Homo sapiens: one gene and its partners. The protein of the gene in region 1 purifies or fractionates together with the protein of each later gene. This does not show direct contact. Each region holds a gene or a part of one and is shown in the gene's direction. Other genes may lie near its edges.

Region 1 (3,500 bases):
TTTCATTTGAATAATATGATAGTTTACACATCTGCCATATTTGAGAAGAAAGTACCTAAGTCTCCAGCATTTTAGAAATAATGCTTTACTTTGTGTAGAAATGGTCTTTAGAGTTTAATAGCTGCTGCCCTCTCCTTTTTCAAAGCAGCTTGACATAATCATGAGTATCTTGCTGACAGCTTGTAAATTTTGATTGTATGAAAACTGAAAATAAGACCATTTCACATGGAAGATTCCCTCCTGCCCTGAAACAGCCAAAGAAAACTGTAGCCATCAAATCTATTGATCTCTGGGCTTTGGTACAAGTCACACTACTACAAATAAAATAATACCAAGTACTTATAAATGATTTTCAGTCCTTTTAAAGTTTATTTTTTTAATATTTTTTTTGAGATGGGGTCTTGCTGTGTCGTCCAGGCTGGAGTGCAGTGGCACAATCTTGGCTCACTGCAACCTCCACCTCCTGGGCTCAAGTGATCCTCCCACCTCAGGCTCCCAAGTAGCTGAGACTACAGGCATGTGCCATCACGCCCAGCTAATTTTTGTATTTTTTTGGAGTAGAGATGGGATTTTGCTGTGTTGCCCAGGCTGGTCTTGAACTCCTGGGCTTAAGCCATCTGTCTGCCTCAGGCTCCCAAAGTGTTGGGATTACAGGTGTGAGCCACTGTGCCCGGCCCAGCCCTTTTTTTAAGAGAAAAACGTATGACATCGTTCGATTTACTGAGTGCTTATGGTTTTACTAAGGCAGTAAGGTTTTATGGATACCCTATGGTAATTAGATAGAATTAGTGCTCTGAAGTCAGCTCTGTAATATGGACTCAGAGTAAACATGGCAAAGGGACACTTAAGGTCTGCATTTTCTCTGGGAAATAAACGTATTCTTTACTACTCTGAATCTAGTGCTGGGAAATTCTAAATCCTTCTTGAGGATTAACCACTTGAAGTAAAGTTTTGGGTCCCAAGTAGGCTTGTGTCCCTGTCTCCTTCTCTTTACTTTTCAGATGTTTCTTCCTAGAGACTGAGGTATATTTTACTTTTACAGATGAAGAAGGAAGCCTCGGCTGTGTTTGTGGCTTTTGTGGGTGAGCAACATCACTTGCAAAGATAAGATGAGCATAGCAAAACTAGGCTTTCAAAATAATTTTTAAAAATTTCTTAGTGATTAGAAAAGGAAAACTCTTCCCTTGTCTCTGTTAAGAAACGTTTTTCGACTTTTTTCCTTTCTTAATGGATCTTTTATTGGCACTTCTCTTCCTTTTGCAGAATCTTACTTAAAAGTCACTACGTTACATTACAGCAAACAGCTTAGCTAATTTTTATCCAGATGGGCCCCGGTTACAGGATTGTACACTATTGCGAATTTCTTACAGGAAAGTGAACATCAAGTAATTATTCCAAATAGAGTTCTCTTAAGAACGTGAGTTACTTAAAAATGTCTAAGGATGAAGTCACTTCTGAATATAACTTCACTCAAGAGAACAAATAAGCAAACTGCATTTAGCATAACATGGTAAATTAGCTTTAACTCTCCTTGATGTTTGAACATTTGTCGCTGTTAACTACTGTTTCACTTTTCAAATAGTCAGGGCTTAGTTTGCTTCTGTAAGGATAAAGGGAAAATACGCCTTCACTGAGTCATAAATATTTTTGTGGCTAACTTTTGCACAGAGAAAAGAGGCCTCTAAGAAGGTACCCAGTGAATTTTTTTTTCGGGGCAGGGAGAGAATATGTCATTTTTTGGTTTGTTGTTGTTGTTGTCATTGTTTTGCTTTGTTGTTTTTACTCTGAACTGAACTGTATCTTGACAGCACTTTTGAATTAAGAGCATTACTCTTATTGTTCTCTACTACCTGGACGCCACCTCCCTGTTGCCATAGTGTTAAGGATCATGCTCCGAGGTGGGGTGAGGCAGAATGGGGCCAAGATCAGAAAGTTACATTAAGCTACATCAGGTTTATACAAGCATAAAACCAAATTTTTGGAGCAGTCCCCAGAATACAACCTGGTTTAGCCACACCTAAAGGTTGCTCTTGAATATTCCTTGAGAATCCACATCCCTAGAATGCTGGGTTTCAATGGGCCCTTTATGTACCTATCATGGTGTCATTTCTGAGCATTTCTAAATATTCCTTCATGTCTTACTGACAGTTTTTCTTGAATAAATCTTAGGAATATTAGTGCCATTATCAGTATTTTGTTTGGTCTGTTCACACCACAAATAACTACCCAGGTCTGCTACTTGCCCCTATTTCTCTACCTGCTAATGAAAATGCTTTTGAAAGTTTGAGTAACAGTATTGGAGTGTGCACAGTGGTATTGGTAGGTTCTGTACTCATCCTTAACCACTTGTTTTCATCCTTTGTGAGCTTGAAGTTTCTCCAAAAAATTTATCACAAAACTTATCAGACATAGTTAATACACTCAGAGAGAGAATCACTGAAAAAGTAGATGTAGTTTAACAAACCCAGTGCCTTTTTTTTACCCATGAATACATATTTGTCAACTAAACCTCATTTTGCAACTTGTTCCACTACTCGAATGGTAACAAACTTTTGGTTTCCCAATAGATTTGGAAGATGTTGCTTTTGAAAGTAGGAAATAGATGGCTTTAGAAGATGGAAGAATATTTTGTTTGAAGTGGGAGCGTGGTATGTCCTTAGCTGTCTGTGAAATGCAGCTGAAGATGGGTGTGGGCCTTCATCTGCATTTCCCATCTTCAGTTTGAGGAGGTAGTTACCCTTCTAACCACTTAAGAACTGCATGGTACATGCTGTTTTATTTACAGGGCAAAACTGTGCTCCCGTAGTTTCCCTGGTGCTTGCCTTCACGTTAACACAGTGTCATCGTTTGGCAGTGTTTATGTGCCAGGGTCCATGTTAGAAGGAGGAAAGGTATAGCGAAGTTAAAGGGTGCAGTTGGCCTCCCACCTTTAGTTTTGTAAGTGCCTTTAAAGTTTGATTTTTGTAGGTTGATCATAAGGAAGTGATAAGTATGTTAGGTTATTTGTGGTTTGAGCTAATTTTAGTCTCTTTTTACAGCTTGCTTTGTATCCTTTGCCATTAAAACATGCTTTCTAGAAAGACAACTTTTGAATGTAGGACACAGTCTATATTCTATACTTGGCTACATTTCAAAAAATATTTTCTCAGTACTTTGGAAGTTGGACAGTTGGAAGCATAGTGACAGTATTTAAAAATCTTTGATTCCGGCCGGGCATGGTGGCTCACGCCTGTAATCCCAGCACTTTGGGAGGCCGAGGTGGGTGGATCACTTGAGGTCCGGAGTTCAGGACCAGCCTGACCAACATGGTGAAACCCTGTCTCTACTAAAAATACAAAATTAGCCGAGCGTGGTGGTACATGCCTGTAATCCCAGCTACTCAGGAGGCTGAGGCAGGAGAATCGCTTGAATCTGGGAGGCGGAGGTTGCATTGAGCCGAGATCATACCATTGCACTACAGCCTGGGGGACAAGAGTGAAACTCTGTCTCAAAAAAAAAAA
Region 2 (3,500 bases), on another chromosome or scaffold:
CAGCAGAACAGCAAAATGTGACCCAGGTGGCACATTCTCCACAAGGTTACAACACAGCAAGGGAGAAGCCAACCCGAGAGGTGCAGGAGGTAAGGGGCGTGAACTGGTAATCTATGGTTAGGTCACTTTCTCTGTCAAGTTGCCAAGAGGGGACCTGCTTTTAATATTGCCAACTTTTCTGGGAGAGCAGTAGTTCTCAAATTTTAGTATATCAGAATTGCCAGTAGGGCGTGATAAAACACAGATTACTGGGTCCCAGGCCCAGAGTTTCTGATTTAGTTAATTTGGAGTGAGGCCTAAAGATTTGCATTTCTAACTGATTTAGCTGGTCTGAGTAGCAAACTTTGAGAACTGCTGCTAGTATTTTCTTTCTTTTTTTCTCTGAGACAGTGTCATGCTACGTCGTCCAGGCTGGAGTGCAGTGGCACAATCTTAGCTCACTGCAACCTCCGCTTCCCGGGTTCAAGCAATTCTCCCTGCCTCAGCCTCCCGAGTAGCTGGGATTATAGGCGCCCGCCACCACGCCTGGCTAATTTTTGTATTTTCAGTAGAGACAGGGTTTCGCTATGTTGGCCAGGCTGGTCTTGAACTCCTGACCTCAGGTGATCCGCCCGCCTTGGCTTCCCAAAGTGCTGGGATTATAGGCGTGAGCCACCACACCTGGCCGCTGCTAGTATGTCTGAGAAAGGCTTTAATGGCTTTGTCTTTATTCATGTAGGTTTATTTGTCTTCAAGGAGTTGTAGTATCTGAGTTTTTCAAGGTTGGGGATTTTGCGGGGGTTAGGGTGAGAACGTTAAATGATCATGAGGATTTTATGTGACAGTCAACCCACTCAAATATTAAAGTTAATAATATATTTTAACTTGGAGCAGTGCTAGGTCTACACAGAGCATGTCAAAATTTGAATTAAATGACCTGTTTGACACTCCTACGGGTATGAGTGCTAGTCAAATAATACACCTTTTTATATTCTTGTTCTTTATAAAAATTAAGCCTTAAGAATATCTCATAAGTGAGACATCAGAAGTAGTTACCATTACCACTAATTTCTACAAAGGTTGTTTTTTTTTTTTCCAATCATCTGTAATAAAAAAATAGGCAATATGGTTATCTTTCTGACAAAGTGGTTGTTTTAAACTTTTAAGTTCAGGGGTACATGAGCAAGTTTGTTACGTAGGTAAACTGTGTCATGGGAGTTTGTTGTAAAGATTATCTTATCACCCAGCTATTTAGCCTAGTACCCATTAGCTATATTCCTGCTCCTCTCCCTCCACCTTCTGATAGGCCGTACAGTGTGTTGTTCCCCTCTATGTGCTTATGTGTCTCATCATTTAGCTCCCACTTATAAGTGAGAACATGTAGTATTTGACTTTCTGTTCCTGTGTTGGTTTGCTACAGATGATGGCCCCCAGCTCCATCCATGCCCCTGCAAAGGACATGATCTTGTTCTTTTTTTATGACTGCATAGTATTCCATGGTGTTTATGTATCACATTTTTCTTTATCAAAGTCTATAATTGGTGGGCATTTAGGTTGATTCCATGTCTTTGCTATTGTGAATAGTGTTGCAGTGAATGTGTCTTTATAATGGAATGATTTCTATTCCTCTGGGCATATACCCAGTAATGGGATTTTGCTGAGTCAAATGGTATTTATATCTTTAGGTCTTGGAGCAGTCTCCACACTGTCTTTCATGATGGTTGAACTAATCTGCACTCCCACCAACAGTGTATAACCATTCCTTTTTCTTCACAACCTCGCCAGAATCTGTTATTTTTGACTTTTTAATAATAGCTCTTCTGACTGGTGTGAGATAATATCTCATTGTGGTTTTGATTTGCATTTCTCTAATGATCAGTGATGCTGAGTTGTTTTTTTTTTTTTTTTGTATGATTGTTGGCCACATATATGTTTGTGTTAGTCCGTTTTCATGCTGCTCATAAAGACATACCCTAGACTGGTTGATTTAAAAAAGAAAGAAGTTTAATTGGACTTACAATTCCACATGGCTGGGGAAGCCTCACAATCATGGTGGAAGGCCAGGAGGAGCAAGTCCCATCTTCCATGGATGGCAGCAGGCAGAGAGAGAGAGCTTGTGCAGGGTAACTCCTCTTTTTAAAACGATCAGATCTTGTGAAACTTGTTCACTATTGTGAGAGCAGCACGGGAAAGACTTGACCCCATGATTGAGTTACCTCTAACCGGGTTCTTCCCACAACACGTGGGAATTCAAGATGAGATTTTGGTGGGGACACAGCCAAACCATATCAGTGTCTTCTTTTGATGTGTGTGTTCATGTCCTTTGCTCACAAAGTGGTTTTTAACATTAAAGAGAAGACTGAGAAAACTTTCCTCCAAGTTATGGGAATAATTAAGTTGATATGAGTAGACTTCATATATGAGCCTCTTCACTCTGTTCAGGGTATTCCTTCAACAGACAGGTTCAGTATCTTCATGGACTCTTATTCTTTCTCAGGCTCTTATGTTAATAACTAAAGAGAGCATGACCAGATCACTGGCCTGGCAGTTGGTTCTATTTTCTGCCCTTGTCAGACTGCCAGTTTACTGGATTAATCTTCCAGTGACTCAGATCTTCAGTTTTTCCATCTCTGAGGTGGAGATAGGAGTTATCTGCACTAACCTTCCTCACTAGGATATTGTGAAGATAAATGACAAGTGTTTGAAAGTACTTAGAGCTCTTTAGAGAAATATTTTTCTGTAAAGCCAGGGCAGTATTATGTCAAACTTGCCAGATATGTGAGGATGTCGGTGGAATGTGCAACTCCAGTTGTCCTCAAATGTCTGAGAAAGGACTTTTCTCCCCAGTTTATTAATACAGTCCAATTTCTCAGATTTGATAATTATATCTCTGCTAATTTAAGAATAGGATTTCACATTTATTTCAATTTTGGGAGAGCAGTCTAACCAAAGAAGATTTTTTTTTCTGAAGGTTAAAGAGAAAAAAAGAGTGACGTTTGTTTCTGTTGATATACTATATTCTCTTTCTTCCTCACTTTCTAGGTAGTGCAGATCATATAGAGATCGCTGAAACTTATAGGGAGAACTGATTTGAGTCAACTAATTTTAGAGGAGGGTTATTCTGAAAAAGCCATTTCTTCTTTTTCTGCTCAGGGTTTTCAATATTAGCAATAAAAAATGTTTACAAAAGAGTCCTGCTGGTTTACAAATAATTACTACTTTAATACATTAAAAATATTTTATTGTATCTTGTTTAACAGGCACTGTGTTGAACTAACATGGATGTTCATTAGTAATGGCATTCTTTTTTTTTTTTTTTTTTTTTTTTTTTTTTTTTTTGAGACGGAGTCTTGCTCTGTCGCCCAGGCTGGAGTGCAGTGGCGCAATCTCGGCTCACTGCAAGCTCCGCCTCCCGGGTTCACGCCATTCTCCTGCCTCAGCCTCCCGCGTAGCTGGGACTACAGGCGCCCGCCACCACGCCCGGCTAATTTTTTGTGTTTTTTTAGTAGAGACGGGGTTTC
Region 3 (3,500 bases), on another chromosome or scaffold:
TGTCCTCGCCTGACTCCCCTGCCTCAGTGGCAGCAGCCCCCAGCCCAGGACCTGCACAGAGGAGGCGTCTGTCAGCGACCCAACCTGAGCCCCAGAGAGGAGCACTGGGTACCACACAGCCCCAAGGCAAGTTACTGGCTGGGCTGGGGCTGGGGCTTCTGCCTCCTACCAAGGCTCCATCAGCCTCTACCTGCCATCTGCTATGTCTACTTCATCACCTCTCCTGGTGAATTCAGACTTCTCTCCATGCACTGGCCCCAGCTTTATGGTTTTTCCTGGTGTCCAGCCTCTGTCCCTCCAGCAGCAGCTTAAGGAAGGCGCATTCACTGAGCACCTCCTGTGTGTGCCAGGCACTGCGTTCACCATAACAGCAGTAACCATCCTTTATTGGGTGCTGACCACATGTGTCAGGCACCTTTCACTCAGAATTTCACAGTCATTTCACTCCTCACAATAATCCTGTTCCCATATCATGCTCACTTTTTAAAATGATATCACTGAGATTTAGTAAGCATTTTCTTCTGGCCAGCCGTTGTACTAAGCATTTCACTTGCATTTCCTCACTGATCTTCCCCAACCCCCTTCCAGGTAGGTACTCACTATCCCTATTTCACAGCTCTGGAAAGGTCCCTGGAGAGGATGTGGAAAGATCCCCAGTAGGTAGCAGAGCCAGGATTCGACTGAAGACCGTGATTCAAGTGAGGCTCTTAACCCTGGGCCAGCTGTCTGCCATTTGGACTGCAAAACCCAGAGGCCAGATACCCCTAAGAGGCCAGCTGTTGCACCTCTGCAAGGCGGGGTTCCACCTCCTCTCGGGTCCCGGCACCTAGGCCAGACTCATCGAATGAATGAAAGACTCTGTTGTATCCCCTGTACCCACCATGGCTATCACAAGCCACAGTCCCATGAAGACAGAGAACCCAAGGCCACTTTCTCAGAGGAGGACGGTGATCTGTCTCTGGGCCTCTAGGGTGGGATTCATCCTTCTCAGTCAGATTTCAGGAGCGATGGTGGTTGCGTTTTTGGGTGTCAGTGCTATTGCTATAACTTAATGATGCAAGGTAGGGAAGTCCCACAGACACTGAACATGCAGTGATGCTGCTGAGTGTGTTGATTAGCACCAAAGCAACTGTGGAACTCAGAGATAATAACATTTTTAATTGTATTAGGGTTTGGGGAATCAGTTTTATTGCAAGTCGTTTCCATTAATAGGTATTGTGATGAGATGCTCCTGGAAACCATCCTTAACTCACTGTGTGCAGGGCCACCTCCCACGATGGCCACAAGGGGGAGCTGCGCGCCGGGGGCAGCCGGGAGAAGGGGCCTGAGTGCCGAGGGCGGGGTTCTCAGGGGTTCGGAGGCGCAGCTGGGCCTCCCAGAGACTGCGCAGCCTCTCTGACACCAGCGTGCTGTCTGTCCGAGAAAGCGCACACCCCCTTACCCCCTGAGATGGGCAGAAGGTGTTCGTTTCTGGTTCTGCCCCTTCAAAGCTCCGTGACCCAGCCAGCTGTTCCTCTCCCCGAACCTCGCTTCCCGTGTGTGAGATGAGGATGCTCGTGCCTCCGCGGAACCAACCTGGGGACCACGCGAAGCGCCCCCACAGGCCCAGGCACGCCCATGCCTCTTCCCGCCCCGAGCCCCCATGTCACAGCCCTTCCAGCTCCTCACCTGCCTCGCTCAGGTCTCTTGGGGGAACATTTGTTTCCAGGCTGATGGGCTGGAATGAAAAGCCTCCAAAGGGAAACTTCATCCCAGGCGAGACTCAGCATTCCCCGCCGGCGAGTGAAGGTCCCTGGGTAGGGAGCGGAGATGCTGGCCACCGCCCCACCCTCATCGTCTAGAAATGCCACTGTCCCTGCTCGGCATCAGAGGGCCCTGGCCGCTGCTGCCTCTGGGAAAGGTTGCCTCGGGAGAAAGGGGGTGAAGGCCCTGCCAGCAGCTAGAACGGCTCCAGGGAGGCAGGGCGGCCGGCAGTGCTGTGGGAGAAGGACAGGCCTTTGGAGGGAGATGGGAGACGAGTCTGGAGAAACTAGGGGGACGGAGGTGGCGGCTTTGACTGACCCTTCCAGAGACTGGGATCTGCGGGAGGCTTTGGAGGAGAGCCACAACCTGGGCTTCGGGGAGGCACGCCTGGGGGTGTGGAGGGGGGTGGGTGGAGTGAGATCCACGGCTAGGGGCGAGGGGCTGGGGGCCGAGGAGCCGAAAACCTCTGCCGAGCTTCACGTGGTTAAAGATTTCAGGTCTTACCTGTCACCAGAGATCTCTGTCCCGTAGAGGTGCCACCTCATCCTCCATGAGAGCTGTGCTTTGCTTTCTTCTGGAGGCTGCAAGGAGGATGGCCCCCATCACGGCGGACCTAGATGCTGGGAGTCCGGGAGAGGGCAGGCCGTGGAGATGGGGCAGGTGGCGATGTGTTTCACCACCCACTCCCGCCTGAAGTGCCACTGTGAGCCCAGCCCAGGGTGCCAGGCTGGGCTGCACTCCAGGCTCCTGCAGCAGACCCAGTTCCTCAGCCTCCTTCCCCTGAGGCCTGGGCATGGCCTGGACAAGTGGGTTTCCTCCTCTGCTGTGCCATGCTGAGGTGGCAGGGAGGCTGGGCGGGACCTTGGATGTGACTAACCTGCCAGGCCCAGGGAGGTCCCCCTTACTGAATGTCCTCCCTCCTCACAGTTCCCTCCTCCTCCTGTCCCCATCCTCCCTTCCATTTCTCGCTGTCCCTTCCTCGCTGGGTCTGCCGGCCTCCTGCTGCCTCCTCCTGCCTCAGTCTCTCCCTGCCGTGTCTATCTGCCGGCCTCTAGTTTCCTGGCAGCCCATGCCTGTCTCTTTCCTCCCTCCCCTCTGCCCTGCTCCATCGGCCTCTCCTGCCCTCTCTGTCTCTCCCTCTGGCTCCTCTCTCAGACACACTGGGAACCCTCCCACCCGCTCTGAGCCTCTGTCCGGTGACTCTTCCCCCTCCAGATCGGGCTGGTGGTCATCCTGGCTTCCACGGTGGTGGCCATGTCGGCCGTGGCCCAGCTGTGGGAGGACGAGTGGGAGGTGCTGCTGATCTCCCTGCAGGTGAGTGAGGAGGGTCCCCCAGGACCCTCACAACAAGAGCCTTTCTGTCACTTCCCTTTCTCCAGACCAAGGCCCAAAGAAGGGCAGGGAGGCGCCCAGGGTCACAGAGCAGGTCAGAACTAGGGAGGACACCAGGGTCCTGAGGCTCCCAGTGTCCCCAGTTGGCAGATGGAGACAGGGTTGCCTGCCTCATAGGTAGAAGTAGGAGGCTGGTGACACAGGGTCTGGGCAGAGCTGGGCGTTACTGGTCTCCCTTCCCTCTCCCTGCAAACAGGGCACAGCGCCATTCCTGCATGTGGGGGCTGTGGCAGCAGTCACCATGCTCTCCTGGATCGTGGCAGGACAGTTCGCCCGCGCAGAGCGGACCTGTGAGTAGAACTGTGAAGGGCCTGCCCCTCCAATCCCTGCAGGTGCCAAGACCAGCTGGTGCTGCCCCGACCTGG
Region 4 (3,500 bases), on another chromosome or scaffold:
ATATTAATTTGTTCATAAGGGAAGGACATCAGCAAAACTGGGTCCTTGTTCCCTGCTTCCATCTCCAGGTATATTTCTATGATTCTTTCTCACCTTACCCTTACCCTCCACTTGCATCCTTCTCCCAAAAAACAAAATAAAAAAGACTGCCTAAGGCCAGCCTGACCTCATTAGGATGTGGCTCAGCTTCACTGCTGCCATCGACAGTGGTGGGTATGCTGGGGTTGAGCTGAGGGCCAGACTATTAACATGCTAATGTCAGGGACTAGAGAACAGAGCTCATCTGTGTTCTCTTGGCAAGCCTCCTTTTCCTGCCCACTGTTCAGCCAGGAGGCTCAGGACAACAGGGGGCACCTCAGCTGCTACACTGAGGTACTTACCCTATTTCTACCCTCATTTCCACCCTAAACCTGTGTAAGAGGAATCATGACTTGGCTCTGATCAGGGTTGGAAAAAATCCTCTCAGAACCCAGGCACAGCATGGCTTCAGAGTCCTTCACAATCCCCGTTTTATCTTCTCAAACATTCTTTATTTGGGGTATTGTAAATGGAACTCAGTCTTAAGGGTGTGGGTATTACCCCCAGTTGCTAAGGATGAAGGACAATATATGGGAGTGGCCCAAGAGAACAAGATACAGGAGTTAATCCAACAATCTCCACCTTCAGCCTTTAATCCATCATGGAAGTGGGAAGTGGTGTGACATTGTAGAGGGAAGGAGGAGGTGGCAGAAATCACTGGATATGCATGGATTTGGAGTCAAACAGACCTGGTTTGAACCCTAATTCTGTCACTCACAACCTGAAACTTGGGCAAGTTATTTCATTTATTTGAACCTCATTTTTGATATCTATAAAATGGGCCTAATTGTAAGTCTAGCATAGGGGTATTATGAAAATTAAAGGAGATGATGGATGTAAGGTTCTTGGTATGTGTCAGTGCTCATAAGTAATAGATCCCTTTCCTGCCTCAGCAGTACTTTGTGCAGAGAGATGCCGACATCAGTTCTTGATTGCTGCTCAAGTATATTTTCTTGCCAGATGCTGAGCACCTTAAACCCTTTAAGGGCAGATATAATATTGACTTCAAACTTTGTGTCCTCTGTGCCTCACACAGAGGAAGTATTCAATCAATGGTTGGTTGTTTTGGTTTTCTCTTCTAGGTGGTGAAAACTATTGGCTTGAGGGAAGTTTGGTTCTTTGGTCTGCAGTACCAGGACACTAAAGGTTTCTCCACCTGGCTGAAACTCAATAAGAAGGTAACTGCTTATTCCTCTGTTGGATTTAGAATTCTTTTCTTTTCCAGAACATTCCTGGGAGGGTACCATGTGCTAGTTGGCAAATCCTGGATACCTAGGGCTGTGTTTGTGACTGGGTGGTCTGTTGACCACTTGGATCAGAATAAGGACCGAGGACACAAGCAAGGCAAAGCTCTTGCTCTGTCTCTACTTTGACTTCTAACAGCGACAATGGCCAGCATTCAAAGAAGAAGAGACTCTTTTCTTTCTAATGGGAACACTAGCTTGAACTTTGACTTGTTTTGGATCAAATCCATTAGTGGCTTTTCAAGAGAGGATTGGTATCCCCTTCATCTCTCCAAACTCAATGGCTTTAGGGGATTTGTGTTTTTTTTGTTTGTTTGTTTTTGTTTTGTTTTGTTTTTGACGGAGTCTCGCACTCTCGCCCAGGCTGGAGTGCAGTGGTGCCATCTCGGCTCACTGCAAGCTCCGCCTCCTGGGTTCACGCCATTCTCCTGCTTCAGCCTCTCGAGTAGCTGGGATTACAGGTGCCTGCCACCACGCCCGGCTAATTTTTTGTATTTTTAGTAGAGACGGGGTTTCACCGTTTTAGCCAGGATGGTCTCGATCTCCTGACCTTGTGATCCGCCCGCCTCGGCCTCCCAAAGTGCTGGGATTACAGGCATGAGCTACTGAGCTTGGCTGGGGATTTGTTAAAAAGAGCCACAGATTCTTGAACTAGAAAAAAAAAAATCTGAAAGATCTTACAGTCTTATGCTGCACCTTCTCCAGCAGTCAACTAATGTCTGAACCCCATATAGATGTTTCCCTCTTTCTTGATCTTTTACCTCAGTTGGACCCCAAATGGGATGGTTTGAGTCCATGCAAGCTCTCCACCCCAAGCAGCATCTTCACGGGAACCTGGCAGCCTTCCATCTTCGTATCCTCAAACTGGCTGGCCTTGTCCTTAGAAGTCTCCATACTGTCCTGCAGTTTGCTTCTCTGATTGTGTCTAGGGAGTAGGTACCCCACCTTCTGCTGGTAGAGTCTTGTTTTCCTAAAGAGTTGAGTCTTTTGCTGGACAAGTGTGGAGCCACTAGTATTCCATTTCAGGCTTTAAAAAATGGTCTAATTTGTGCTCTTGTTTAGCCAGTTCTCAGTCCTCAGACATATATCCTAGTCCTTACTTTGCTAATTTATGAAGTTGGAGGAGACTTATAAGACGAGCTTAAAAGAAGAGCTTATGCCTACTATCAGAATTTGGGGATAGTTGGATATAGTCAGATAAAAGTGGTTTGAAGATTTCTGATCATCAGTCGGTATTAAGGTAATTTCAGGAAGAAATTCCCAACAGAAAGTGATTACAGACATGGGATTCAGTCCCCAGTGAAAGTAATGTATTATTTTTCTTAATTACCAGGGGAGTTGCCACCCAGCTGTCTAAGATTATGCAAATTGATGATCTTTCAGTGTTTTCTCCCCACCCTACAGCCACTCCATTACCCTTAAAACCTATTTTTTGAGAGTCCATAACCCTTACTCTTCCCAGGTGACTGCCCAGGATGTGCGGAAGGAAAGCCCCCTGCTCTTTAAGTTCCGTGCCAAGTTCTACCCTGAGGATGTGTCCGAGGAATTGATTCAGGACATCACTCAGCGCCTGTTCTTTCTGCAAGTGAAAGAGGGCATTCTCAATGATGATATTTACTGCCCGCCTGAGACCGCTGTGCTGCTGGCCTCGTATGCTGTCCAGTCTAAGTATGGCGACTTCAATAAGGAAGTGCATAAGTCTGGCTACCTGGCCGGAGACAAGTTGCTCCCGCAGAGGTGAGGTGGTTCCCTGCCCTCCTTTGCCTTGGCCATAAGGGGCTGCAGCCCACAGCTGACCAATCCCTGCCTCACAGGGATGCCAGATCTGTTCTTCTCCATTGGGGTCTGTCTGAAGACTGTGTTATGCTGCTCAAGAGACATTTGCATATAGTGTCAGACTCTGTTGTTGTTTTTCTGGCTTTCCAAATAAAAAGCCTTTTTGTTTTCCCTCTGTCTACCTGGTTACAGAACTTTATTACCCTGGAGGCAGGTGCTTATATAGAACCAGAGATTGAGTAATTTCTTTCACCCATCCCTGGTTCCATTTTCTCAGTTCTTTTTACTGATTTAGATCTCTTATATCAGAAGTTCACAGGGGAGAGAGAGAAATAAGCAAACCGAGGACATGGGGAGCTCAAATAGTCTTTTAATATTGACAGCTAGTGTACAGAGCTTTCC
Region 5 (3,500 bases), on another chromosome or scaffold:
AACATCCATATGCATTGGGTTACCAAAATAAGCTACTTTAAGTCATGTCAGAATAGGAAATGTTGTTTATGTTTTAGGTCATAGAAGGTTATGAAATAGCCTGCAGAAAAGCTCATGAGATTCTTCCTAATTTGGTATGTTGTTCTGCAAAAAACCTTCGAGATATTGATGAAGTCTCATCTCTACTTCGTACCTCCATAATGAGTAAACAATATGGTAATGAAGTATTTCTGGCCAAGCTTATTGCTCAGGCATGCGGTAAGTAAATATCAGTAAATGAAAAGATCCAAAATAAAAATACCTTTAACATGACTAGATACTTTCTCTGTTGTCCCAAAATAATCTTTTGATATGTCTCATTTTCTTAACAGTATCTATTTTTCCTGATTCCGGCCATTTCAATGTTGATAACATCAGAGTTTGTAAAATTCTGGTAAGTAGAAAATGCATTAATGCTACATATCTAGGTCAGTTTTTTTGTGTGCTTTTTTTGTTTTTTTGTGCAAAAAAAAAAAAATGTGTTCATCTAAACCTAAATGTTACTTCATGATTTGAACACTTAGGACTTTTTTTGAGGCATTATTTTTATTTATGTACTTATTTATTTTTGAGACGGAGTCTCGCTCTTGTTGCCCAGGTTGGAGTGCAATGACATGACCTCGGCTCACCGCAACCTCCGCCTCCCGGTTCAAGTGATTCTCCAGTCCCAGCCTCCCGAGTAGCTGGGATTACAGGCATGCGCCACCACACCCGGCTAATTTTGTATTTTTAGTAGAGATGGGGTTTCTCCGTGTTGGTCAGGCTGGTCTCGAACTCCCGACCTCAGGTGATCCACCTGCCTTGGCCTCCCAAAGTGCTGGGATTAACAGGCGTGAACCACCGTGCCTGGCCTTTGAGGCATTATTTTGTAACATTTTGATGTTGCTAAGTTGTAATAATACTACTACCTATTTAAGTTTAAAAGGATATTGACATATTATCTCCTTATAAAGTCATTTTCTGTGATGTCTTGTGGGTTTAAGAATAATGTATAAACAAAATACTAAATTTTTTTTTTTTTTTTTTTTGAGATGGAGTCTGGCTCTGTTGCCCAGGTTGGAGTGCAGTGCCTCGACCTCGGCTCACTGCAACCTCCACCTCCCAGGTTCAAGTGGTTTTCCTGCCTCAACCTCCCAAGTAGCTGGATTACAGGTGCATGCCACCATGTCCAGCTAATTTTTGTATTTTTTTAGTAGAGGCAGGGTTTCACCATGTTGGCCAGGCTGGTCTCGAACTCCTGACCTCATGATCTGCCCACCTTGGCCTCCCAAAGTGCTGAGATTACAGGTGTGAGCCACCGCGCCCAGCGCAAAATACTAATTTTTTTGTGTTCTTCATAATACTCTGAATTATAATAAGCTTATAAGACAGTTTTGAGTGGGGTGGAAATCGTCCTATTCCTCTTCAATAATAGAATTCACACTTTAATGTTAGTATTGAAATATTAAAGTATATTTTTGATAAAATGTGCTTGATAGAGTAAAACCTATCAGTGGAATGGTTTTGGTTTTGCACATTGGCATTCTGATTGTTAATGTGAATTTAGCATAACATAAGTACATGTGCTTTCCCTGAAGATACTCACGTGTTCTATGTTTGCTGTCTCCCTCCACGTACTGCCAGCTTTTCCCATTAAATGCAACCTTGTGAGAACAGAATCTTTGCTTTGTTCTGTGTTGTATTTGCAGTACTGACAGCTGTGGCTGGTATATTGGCACCAAGTACTAGGTAACTGAATGGCTAAGACCAGTTCTCTGCCTTTGGTTCTTCCCAGTACATGGAAGGACCTCCCCTCCCTAAAAGTAGCTCATTCCCTCAGTGATTTCTGCCTCGAGCAGAAGGGTGTGCTGTATGTCCACCACTCCACCCCTTATCCCAGGAGTCACTGCCTTGGTTTATGACTTTATTTTAGAAAGGGATATTTTTGGTATATGGAGAATCAACAGTTTGACCGTAATGTTATTTTCAGGAGATTGCTGATGAGTTTGGTATTCAATTCCTTAGGGCTCTGGTATCAGTTCCTCTTCAGTATTGCATGGCATGGTTTTTAAGAAGGAAACCGAAGGTGATGTAACATCTGTCAAAGATGCAAAAATAGCAGTGTACTCTTGTCCTTTTGATGGCATGATAACAGAAACTAAGGTATGTAGACTTCAAACCTTAAAAGTAATAATTGGGGTTGCACTTTCAGATTGTTTGAGTTAGCTCTTAAACCAGTAAGTACTTCTTAAAAAACTGAACATTGCAGGATCTTACCTATTTTTTTATGCCAGATTTATAGTCTTCAAATATCTAATTCAACTACTGAACATTAAACTGGAAATATAAAGATGGTGGCCGTATTATTTATAATCTGACACACAGCCCTTCTAGTAGAGCTTATACATTCAGCAAGTGAAAGAATATGAGAATGTGAGTATTTTGTGTGCTCTTCACGAAAATAAAGTTGACATTCTGTAGCATCCTAAAACAAGATAAGCTAATGTAATTTGAAAATGGTAAGTATGTTTCTAAAAATACATGTTAGAAAGTTTGAAGTTTGTGTTTATAGTCAATAGTGGCTGACTTCATCTCTAGAATTCTTGAAATCCAAGTTGTTGATAGTTTTAAAATTTTGTAGCATGAGGGGGGTCTGGTCATTTGGTCCATATTTTATTTTATTGTATTTTATTCTTTTTTTTTTTTTTTTTTTTTTTTTTTAGAGTCTTGCTTTGTCACCCAGGCTTGAGTCCAGTGGTACAATCTTGGCTCCCTGCAACCTCCGCCTCCTGGGTTCAAGTGATCTCTGGCTAATTTTTGTATTTTTAATAGAGACAAAGTTTCACCATGTTGGCCAGACTGGTCTCCAACTCCTGACTGCAAGTGATCCACCCGCCTTGGCCTCCCAGAGTGCTAGGATTACAGGCATGAGCCACCGCGCCCGGCCTAGTCCACATTTTAGAAAAAGTTTGAGAACCACAATGTTGTATTGGGAACACTAGTTAGCCTTTGTCAAAAGACAAACACCAGGACACCTACCTACCTGACATATTTAAAATAAAAGCACTTCTCGGCCGGGCACGGTATCTCACGCCTGTAATCCCAGCATAGGCCAAGGCAGGCAAATCACGAGGTCAGGAGTTCAAGACCAGCCTGGCCAACATGGTGAAACCCCGTCTCTACTAAAAATGCAAAAATTAGCTGGGCGTGGTGGCGCTTGCCTGTAATCCCAGCTACTTGGGAGGCTGAGGCAGGAGAATCGCTTGAACCAGGGAGTCAGAGGTTGCGGTGAGCCGAGATCCTGCCTGCACTCCAGCATGGTGACAGAGTGAGACTCTGTCTCAAAATAAATAAATAGATAAAAGTACTTTTCCACCTAAGTACTTATCAAAAGCAGATGCATCTGTTTTGACAGGGGGTTCTAGAAGCAAGCTGAGTTTCTATTTCACACATACAGTATTCTGCTGCTTCATAATATATGC
Region 6 (3,387 bases), on another chromosome or scaffold:
TTTATATATGGGAAATATATTTAAATATGTTGTTTTATATAAATGAGATATAAAAGATAAAAGATATAAAAGATACCTCATTTATATAAAACAACGTATTTAAATCTATTTCACTTTACCTCATTACTTAGAGTTAATAAACTGACCTTTTCTTAATTTTTCCATTAACTTTATCTAAACATTAGAGTTTTTTTATGAATAAAACTCAACAATAATTATTTGGCAATTTTTAATTTATCCGTTTTATTTTCTAGCCTGAGCAATATTTTACCAAAGCTGCTTTTAGTAGCTAAGTCTGAGGCTATCTTTATTGGTTCCATTCTTTAAGTAATTATTCAATAGTATCAGTTTTCTTTCTTTGAGAAATTGTTACCAACATCTATACTATGGTTAAATTTTGGAACAAATGTAGTATATCCTAGCTGTTTTATAGTTTCTATATAAGTAAATGAGGTAGATGAGGATTTTTAACATTTTGTATGTGTTCTTTGGGAGTTCTCAATAAATAAAAAAGGTCATATTGAGTATATATATTATGAATTCCTACTATTCCAAGTGTGTTCATGATCAGCAGCAGCAGTGTCACCTAGGGGTTTGTTAGAAATGCAGAATTTCAAGCCCTGCTAAATCAGAATCTGCATTTTACCAAAATTCTAAGATGATTCAAATGCGCATTAAAGTTTGAGAAGCACTGGCGTGATGATGAAAGAATTTGCTATTCTTTGTAGAAAGATTTTAACTACTGATTTTATCTTGTTAATGATTTATTTTCTATTCTTGAATTTGCTTTGGTAATATATAATTATACATTTGTTCATGTTGGTTTTCAAATATATAGGTATTAGAGATGTTTATGGTATTCTCATGTACATAAAACCATGTAGTCTGCAGTTGATTCAATGACATAGCAGCTCTTTGCTGGTAATTTTGACCACGTGATTTCCTCTTATGCTCTAGCTATAGGCTTGAAGTCCCCACATAAGACTGTATAAATTCTATAAAACATCAGTTCCATTTAAAAGAAAATTCATATGGGGCCTCATTGATAATTTAAATTACTGTGATACCACTTAAACATGTATAAACATGATGAGGTGTGAATTCCTTAAGCTTAGAGCTCTTTTACAGCTACAAAACTAATATAAACTTACACATTAAATACATTAAATACAGACAAAACTTAAATACAGTTTCAAATTTACAACATTAAAGAGACCTATGATACCGTTTAGATGAAACTAAACCAGTGGTTTGGGATTTAATTAAGGAAAGATAGAATCTGAGGTTCAAATTTCATTATTTTGCATTTTGCTTTTTATTTTGACTTATATACTTCATATATTTTTTATATCCTCATGTAAAGAATGTGTGCATTAAGTAGATGTCTAATCCAATTATTGTAGTATCATAAACAGAGAAATAATATCTTAAATGAGCTCTGAAAAATCAGAAAAGTGTGGTATGGTTGAAATATATGTTTTATTAATACTGATAATATGCTTATTTTATTATGCAATTCCTAACCAATTTAAGAACCTTTTTACAGTGCAGCCAAACTTATTACACATTAGAAGTTTTATTTTATATCACTTTGGCAATCAGAGGTGTAGATACAAACCGAGGAACTTGAATCTCATGGTAAAAATGATCTAGAATATACTTATAATGATCTTTTAAAAATTATCATCAAAATGAAAATAAAATTAAGAAACCATGGTGGAAATTTCCCAGATGCCCTAAGCATGCATTTGCCAGCCTTGAGTGATCCACTTGGAGGAACAGTGACCCAGAGTGGGGTTTCTCAGTCCTGGCACTATTGACCTTTTCACTGTTAATTCCTAGTTGGGCAGGGTTGAGGGTTGCTGTGCACTGGAGGATGTTTAGAAAGCATCCCTGGCCTCTGCCCATTAGATGGCAGTAGTGCTTTCAGTTGTGAAAATAAAAATGCCTCCAGTCATTGCCAAATGTCCCCCTGAGGGACAAATATCACTGACCTCCCCACCTTGGTTGAGAACCACTGATCTAGAGCAACTACAGCTATTATCTATTAATGTTTTTTTTTTTTTGAAAATCTGAAGTACAGATCTATAAATACGTATTCACAATCTGAAATCCAGAAAGTGCTTAAATTTAAAACATTTTTCATAATTTTGTAGCAAGCTCACTGGGTAAAACTTCGCCTAAGCTAACAAAAGATATTTAAACTCTATATGTCTCAATATCAGTGTCCATGTGTGTTGCTACAGAAACATTTATGTGTTTAATTATAAAATTCTGCCTCAGAACTCTCTGGGGGTGTTAAATAATACATTTTCAAAATCTGAATTCCAAGACACATTCCAAAACAGTAGTTTACGGTAGGGGATTATGACCCTGTATTTGAAAAGCAAGTTGACTGTCAACAATGCTATACTGATTTAATTTTTCCTGATTTTGACCTTTGGCTATTTTTATCCTTCTCATATTCCTCTCATATATTTTTCACAATAAAATAGGAGACATGATAGGAGATATGTTTTTTGCCCAAAAGAAAATAATACACTTAATGCCAGTACCTGGTAGTTTTTATTATGTGGTTGATGGCCAGTACTTTCCATTGCTATAAACATTTTGCATCCAGTTGTAAATTTTTTCTCATTGACATTGCTTTTTAACTTTAGTCACTGAAGACTGTCCTCTTAACAGCTTAAAGTACATGGACTAGTTTAATTTGTGACTCTGTTACTCATTAAACCTAAATCATTTTCTTTGTATTAGGTTGGCATCACTCTCTTCACTGTGTCTCATAGGAAATCTCTTTGGAAACATCATGAGGTTTGTATTTCTTTCATTGAATGGTACAGTGAAATTTTATTTTCTTTAAAATATGAATTCAGGTTAATATGGTTTTAGATTTTATGGTTTGTATTCCCTTAAACATATGTCTTAAGGAGAAAAGGTGGTTTTGTTTTATAAAATAGGATTTTCTTAAATATTATAGTTGTCAGTTTTGAAAGCAATGGTGTAACAGTTTTTCTCCAGTTTTATAAGTGACTCTTATCTGTTAATAGTAACTGACTAAACTTTGCATAGTCTTATCACAAATATGGTGAAGTAAACTTTTCTTATCCAGCAGTGACAGAGGAGAAAAAGTCTTAAGAAGAATTAGATGGCAAAAAATTTAGGGACATTTTTAATAGAGGTCAGGACTACAAGGGGGAAGATTGAATAACATAAGCTATGTTTATCAATGTACTGTAGTAAGTAGGATTCATTAGATAGTCACTATAATTTACAAAGATATTCAAATGAGGCTTACATTGGTGCACGTGTATTACTTATTCTGGTGCTTCAGTAGTGCCATTCTCACTATGTCAGTTCTTTTCAACTCAATGTGAAATGCTCAAA
Region 7 (3,500 bases), on another chromosome or scaffold:
TAGTCTTTATTCTCATTGAGCTACATTTGTTTGGCTAGGGGAAGCAGACCAAAAACAAAGTATGTGGTATGTGGAGTGATGCTAGGTGTTATAAAGAAGACCTTTAAAGTAGGGCTGTGGAAGGGGGATATAGTAGAGGGGGAGAGGGCTGTTTTATACACGTATAAATGGTATACACCATTTATACACGGTGGTCAGAGAAGCTCTGATCAGGTGACGTATGTACAGAAAGTCACTGTGGCCTGAGTAGAGTCAAGGAGAAGGAGCAGCAAGAGTTGAGCTTAGGGAGGTGGAGAAGGGGTGGAATAGATCAAGCAAGGCCTTGGCCCTGGTAGGGATCTGGGATTTTGAGTGAGAGGACAACCGTTGGGATGTTTTGAGCACAGAATGGTTGTAAGAAGACACGATTCAGGAGGACCACTTAGGCCTCTGTGTGGAGGGGGCAAGCGCTGCCACCCAGGCCCAGGAATGTCAGCACCAGGGTAGGCTCTGGGGACTGCACAGGGGTGATTGTTGCTGGAGACTTAAGTGGGAGGAGGAGAAGAGGGGCTGGAGATAGAGAACCATGGGAGGGGCCACATTCAGGAACTTACTGTGTCGTATCTGGAGGATAAGAAATAAGTAAGCCTTGGGCAGCATGGCACTATTGTTGCTTTCATGCACTGTGTCTGTAACCGGAGAAAAGTTATAGGGTGCGTCTATTAACCGATTGGCCTTTTGGTGAAAGCATTTTGAATACATTTAGAGATTTTGCCTATTAAATTGGCAAGTTCTAAAAATGGACTTACTACAACATAAATTTTTTGTTCTGACATTGCTGTTGGCTACATCTGCCATTTTCAAAACGGGTGGCAAGACATTAATTTTTTTGCTAATTGTGCAAAAGAATGTATAGCCTTATATTCCCATTAGAGAGAAAGTGCTGTGGACATTAGATTCAACTGATGTCCATTTATTCAAGAAATATAGTGTCTTGTATGGGCCAGCTATTAAGCTAAGTGTTGGGTATTTGGTATAGAACGAAAGAAAATAATTCATTCCTTTTAAAAGCTTATATCCTAGTGGGAGAGACAGCTATTAATCAGGTAAATATGTCCCATTCCAGCAGGTGTAGCTAAAAAAAAAAAAAAAAAAGACAAATTTAAAAAACATAAATATGTAAATTACAAGTTTAGTAAAGTGTTATGAAGGAATAAAAAAGATTCCATAATAGAGAACAATCCAGGTTATGAGAATCAACCAAGAAAGGGTGGTTAAGAAATGATCATATTCTGTTATTATGTAAAACAGCTAATATTTATTGGCTTCATATGGGTTAGGTATTATTTTAATCCCATTGCATGTAATTGTGCAGTTATTTGAAGATGGGGAAACTCAGACACTGAGGTGAAGAAACTACCCCAGGGGACAGGGAGTGATAAAGAGAGGCTGGTTAATAAGTACAGACATACAGTTAGGTAGAAGGAGTAAGCTGTAGTGTTCAGCAGCATGGTACTATGCTTAACAGTTTATTGTGTATTTTATTTTTTATGGTATATTTTAAAGTAGCTAGAAGATAAGATTTGAGATGTTCCCAGCACCAAGAAATGAGAAAAGTTTGAGGTGATGGATATCCTAAATACTCTGATTTGATCATCACACATCCTATGCATGTAATCCAAATATTACACATACCCCATAAACATGTACAATTATTATGTATTAGTTAAAAAAATTAAGGAAAAAAAAAAGAAACTAGCCTGGGATGATATAATGGTCAGTAGTAAAGTCAGGAGTCAAACCAAGGTAGTCTGGCTCTAGGGTCCATACTTTTGACCACTAGACAGCTTCGTTTTAAGCCGAAAGGGCTTTTGGAAGTGAACGTTGAACTGAAATGTGAAAGATGAGAAGCTGTAGTTTTCCTCCTGTGATGAAACATTTTTTTTTCTATTGAAAATGAACGTAGACTTAATACATCAAGTAAAACAATATAGCACAAAGACGCGTGAAGGCAAAGCTAATCATCTCCTCCTTTTAGTCCTACATGGTAAGATAACGAATTTTACAGCCAGGTGTGTGTCCTTCCACACTTTTCTTTTTGTTCATGTGTACACACTGGATAGATACATATATGGGGGTCTTATTTATTTTATCAAGTAGAATTATACTACACACGTGCTCTTAAACATGACAGCGTGTCATTGGTTTTACTATTGTGTGTATCAACAGATGTGGATTTAATGTTCTAATTTTATTTTGTAATTTCTAGGCACTTATATATGTGCTTACAAACATCTTATGACATTTAATAATCAATTATTCAGTGAAATTTATTAAACACTGTCAGTGCCCTCTAGTCAAAGACTGCCAGGAACATACCTCTAGTTGAACAAAGTTGGTCTTATTAACTCCCTGCAATGAAGGAGAATGCCTGTCCTAGGGAACGTTGGGGGTCTCTGTAACAGGTTGTTAGAAAGGACTTAGAAGATTCGAGATGATGTTAGGTGATTCGGGGAAGAGTTCAAGGAAGCAAAGCTTTGCTCAGTCTCGGGTGCTTCAGGAATAAGGAGGAGTGGGAATTCTGCAATTGGATATTTAAAATCTTAACGAAAAGGCAAGAGGTATGGAGTAAGGCTAAAGCTGTAATTGATAAAGAAGCAGCAATGCTTCATATTAGCCACGATAGGAAGATGTTTGGGCATTTTGTGGTTTGGGTGATGTTCATGTTTTTGTCTATGTTCAGATATGATTCCAGAGTAGTCTTATTTTTGTCTTCATATCCTGGTGACAGAGTGACCTTGTTTGATGTTGGCATTCTTTGAAATTGTTGCATTTATGTTAGAACACCAAGTCTGGCTGTGTGTGCCGGGTCAGTTCCCGACAGTCAGGGGCTGCTTTTCTCTCTCACCTCCTGTTGTGTAGGCATTGTGCTAGATATAAAGCAGATCCTGCTGCAAGAACTTCTAGTCTAAGGGAGATGTGGAGAGAGTGAGTAAAATGGAGAGGAGAGTTGAGTGTGATGTGAGCAGTCTACAACTAGATGTATACACAGGTGTGGAGGAGCCCAGGGCCTGGCCCAGCTTGGGGTAAGCAGCCAGTCAATGAAGGCTTCCAGAAGATCTGTTAGAGCCATGTTCTTAAGGATGGGTAGGAGCTGTTCAGGCATATATACGTGGAGAATGGACTTTCTAAGCAGAGGGGGCATTAAGTGCAAAGGTCTGGAAAGAACAAAGTGTGGGGCAGTGAAGGAGCTGCAAGTAGATCAGTCTGGCTGGAGCTGGAGGTGTAGATGTGACTATGTAGAGGGTGGGAGGGATGGGGCTGAGGAGGGGAGAAAGATAAGGCTGGAATGGTAAGATGGGGCCAGATTGTGAAGAATCTGCATGCCCTCATCATAATCAAGAATTGAACTTACTGAGTTTTCACTCTGCTCAGTGGAGAGCAAAGCTTTCCGTAGGAATTGTGTATTTGCATCTTTACAATGGCTTTAAAAGCCTTAGAAGGCGTAAGTTCCTTGAATA

The links.
Region 2: the proteins of PTPN1 (region 1) and GOLIM4 purify together in Homo sapiens (affinity purification with mass spectrometry; 2 studies listed by BioGRID and IntAct, with this or other methods). This does not show direct contact.
Region 3: the proteins of PTPN1 (region 1) and GDPD5 purify together in Homo sapiens (co-immunoprecipitation; one large-scale study listed by IntAct). This does not show direct contact.
Region 4: the proteins of PTPN1 (region 1) and MSN purify together in Homo sapiens (affinity purification with mass spectrometry; 2 studies listed by BioGRID and IntAct, with this or other methods). This does not show direct contact.
Region 5: the proteins of PTPN1 (region 1) and CCT8 fractionate together in Homo sapiens (co-fractionation; one large-scale study listed by BioGRID). This does not show direct contact.
Region 6: the proteins of PTPN1 (region 1) and ABCD3 purify together in Homo sapiens (affinity purification with mass spectrometry; 3 studies listed by BioGRID and IntAct, with this or other methods). This does not show direct contact.
Region 7: the proteins of PTPN1 (region 1) and KIDINS220 purify together in Homo sapiens (affinity purification with mass spectrometry; one large-scale study listed by BioGRID and IntAct). This does not show direct contact.

The regions. Positions count from the first base shown.
Region 1 is NC_000020.11:50,516,883-50,520,382, forward strand, and holds part of PTPN1 (tyrosine-protein phosphatase non-receptor type 1), read left to right. Parts: intron 1-3,500. UniProt on the Homo sapiens protein: Tyrosine-protein phosphatase which acts as a regulator of endoplasmic reticulum unfolded protein response. Mediates dephosphorylation of EIF2AK3/PERK; inactivating the protein kinase activity of EIF2AK3/PERK.
Region 2 is NC_000003.12:168,033,425-168,036,924, reverse strand, and holds part of GOLIM4 (Golgi integral membrane protein 4), read left to right. Parts: coding exon 1-89; intron 90-3,500. UniProt on the Homo sapiens protein: Plays a role in endosome to Golgi protein trafficking; mediates protein transport along the late endosome-bypass pathway from the early endosome to the Golgi.
Region 3 is NC_000011.10:75,449,442-75,452,941, reverse strand, and holds part of GDPD5 (glycerophosphodiester phosphodiesterase domain-containing protein 5), read left to right. Parts: coding exon of another isoform or gene 1-126; intron 127-610; exon of another isoform or gene 611-1,609; intron 1,610-1,708; exon of another isoform or gene 1,709-2,549; intron 2,550-2,958; coding exon 2,959-3,057; intron 3,058-3,331; coding exon 3,332-3,425; intron 3,426-3,500. UniProt on the Homo sapiens protein: Glycerophosphodiester phosphodiesterase that promotes neurite formation and drives spinal motor neuron differentiation.
Region 4 is NC_000023.11:65,726,654-65,730,153, forward strand, and holds part of MSN (moesin), read left to right. Parts: intron 1-1,160; coding exon 1,161-1,256; intron 1,257-2,784; coding exon 2,785-3,059; intron 3,060-3,500. UniProt on the Homo sapiens protein: Ezrin-radixin-moesin (ERM) family protein that connects the actin cytoskeleton to the plasma membrane and thereby regulates the structure and function of specific domains of the cell cortex.
Region 5 is NC_000021.9:29,063,649-29,067,148, reverse strand, and holds part of CCT8 (T-complex protein 1 subunit theta), read left to right. Parts: intron 1-77; coding exon 78-258; intron 259-371; coding exon 372-433; intron 434-2,043; coding exon 2,044-2,181; intron 2,182-3,500. UniProt on the Homo sapiens protein: Component of the chaperonin-containing T-complex (TRiC), a molecular chaperone complex that assists the folding of actin, tubulin and other proteins upon ATP hydrolysis.
Region 6 is NC_000001.11:94,512,389-94,515,775, forward strand, and holds part of ABCD3 (ATP-binding cassette sub-family D member 3), read left to right. Parts: intron 1-2,757; coding exon 2,758-2,814; intron 2,815-3,387. UniProt on the Homo sapiens protein: Broad substrate specificity ATP-dependent transporter of the ATP-binding cassette (ABC) family that catalyzes the transport of long-chain fatty acids (LCFA)-CoA, dicarboxylic acids-CoA, long-branched-chain fatty acids-CoA and bile acids from the cytosol to the peroxisome lumen for beta-oxydation.
Region 7 is NC_000002.12:8,831,114-8,834,613, reverse strand, and holds part of KIDINS220 (kinase D-interacting substrate of 220 kDa), read left to right. Parts: intron 1-3,500. UniProt on the Homo sapiens protein: Promotes a prolonged MAP-kinase signaling by neurotrophins through activation of a Rap1-dependent mechanism. Provides a docking site for the CRKL-C3G complex, resulting in Rap1-dependent sustained ERK activation.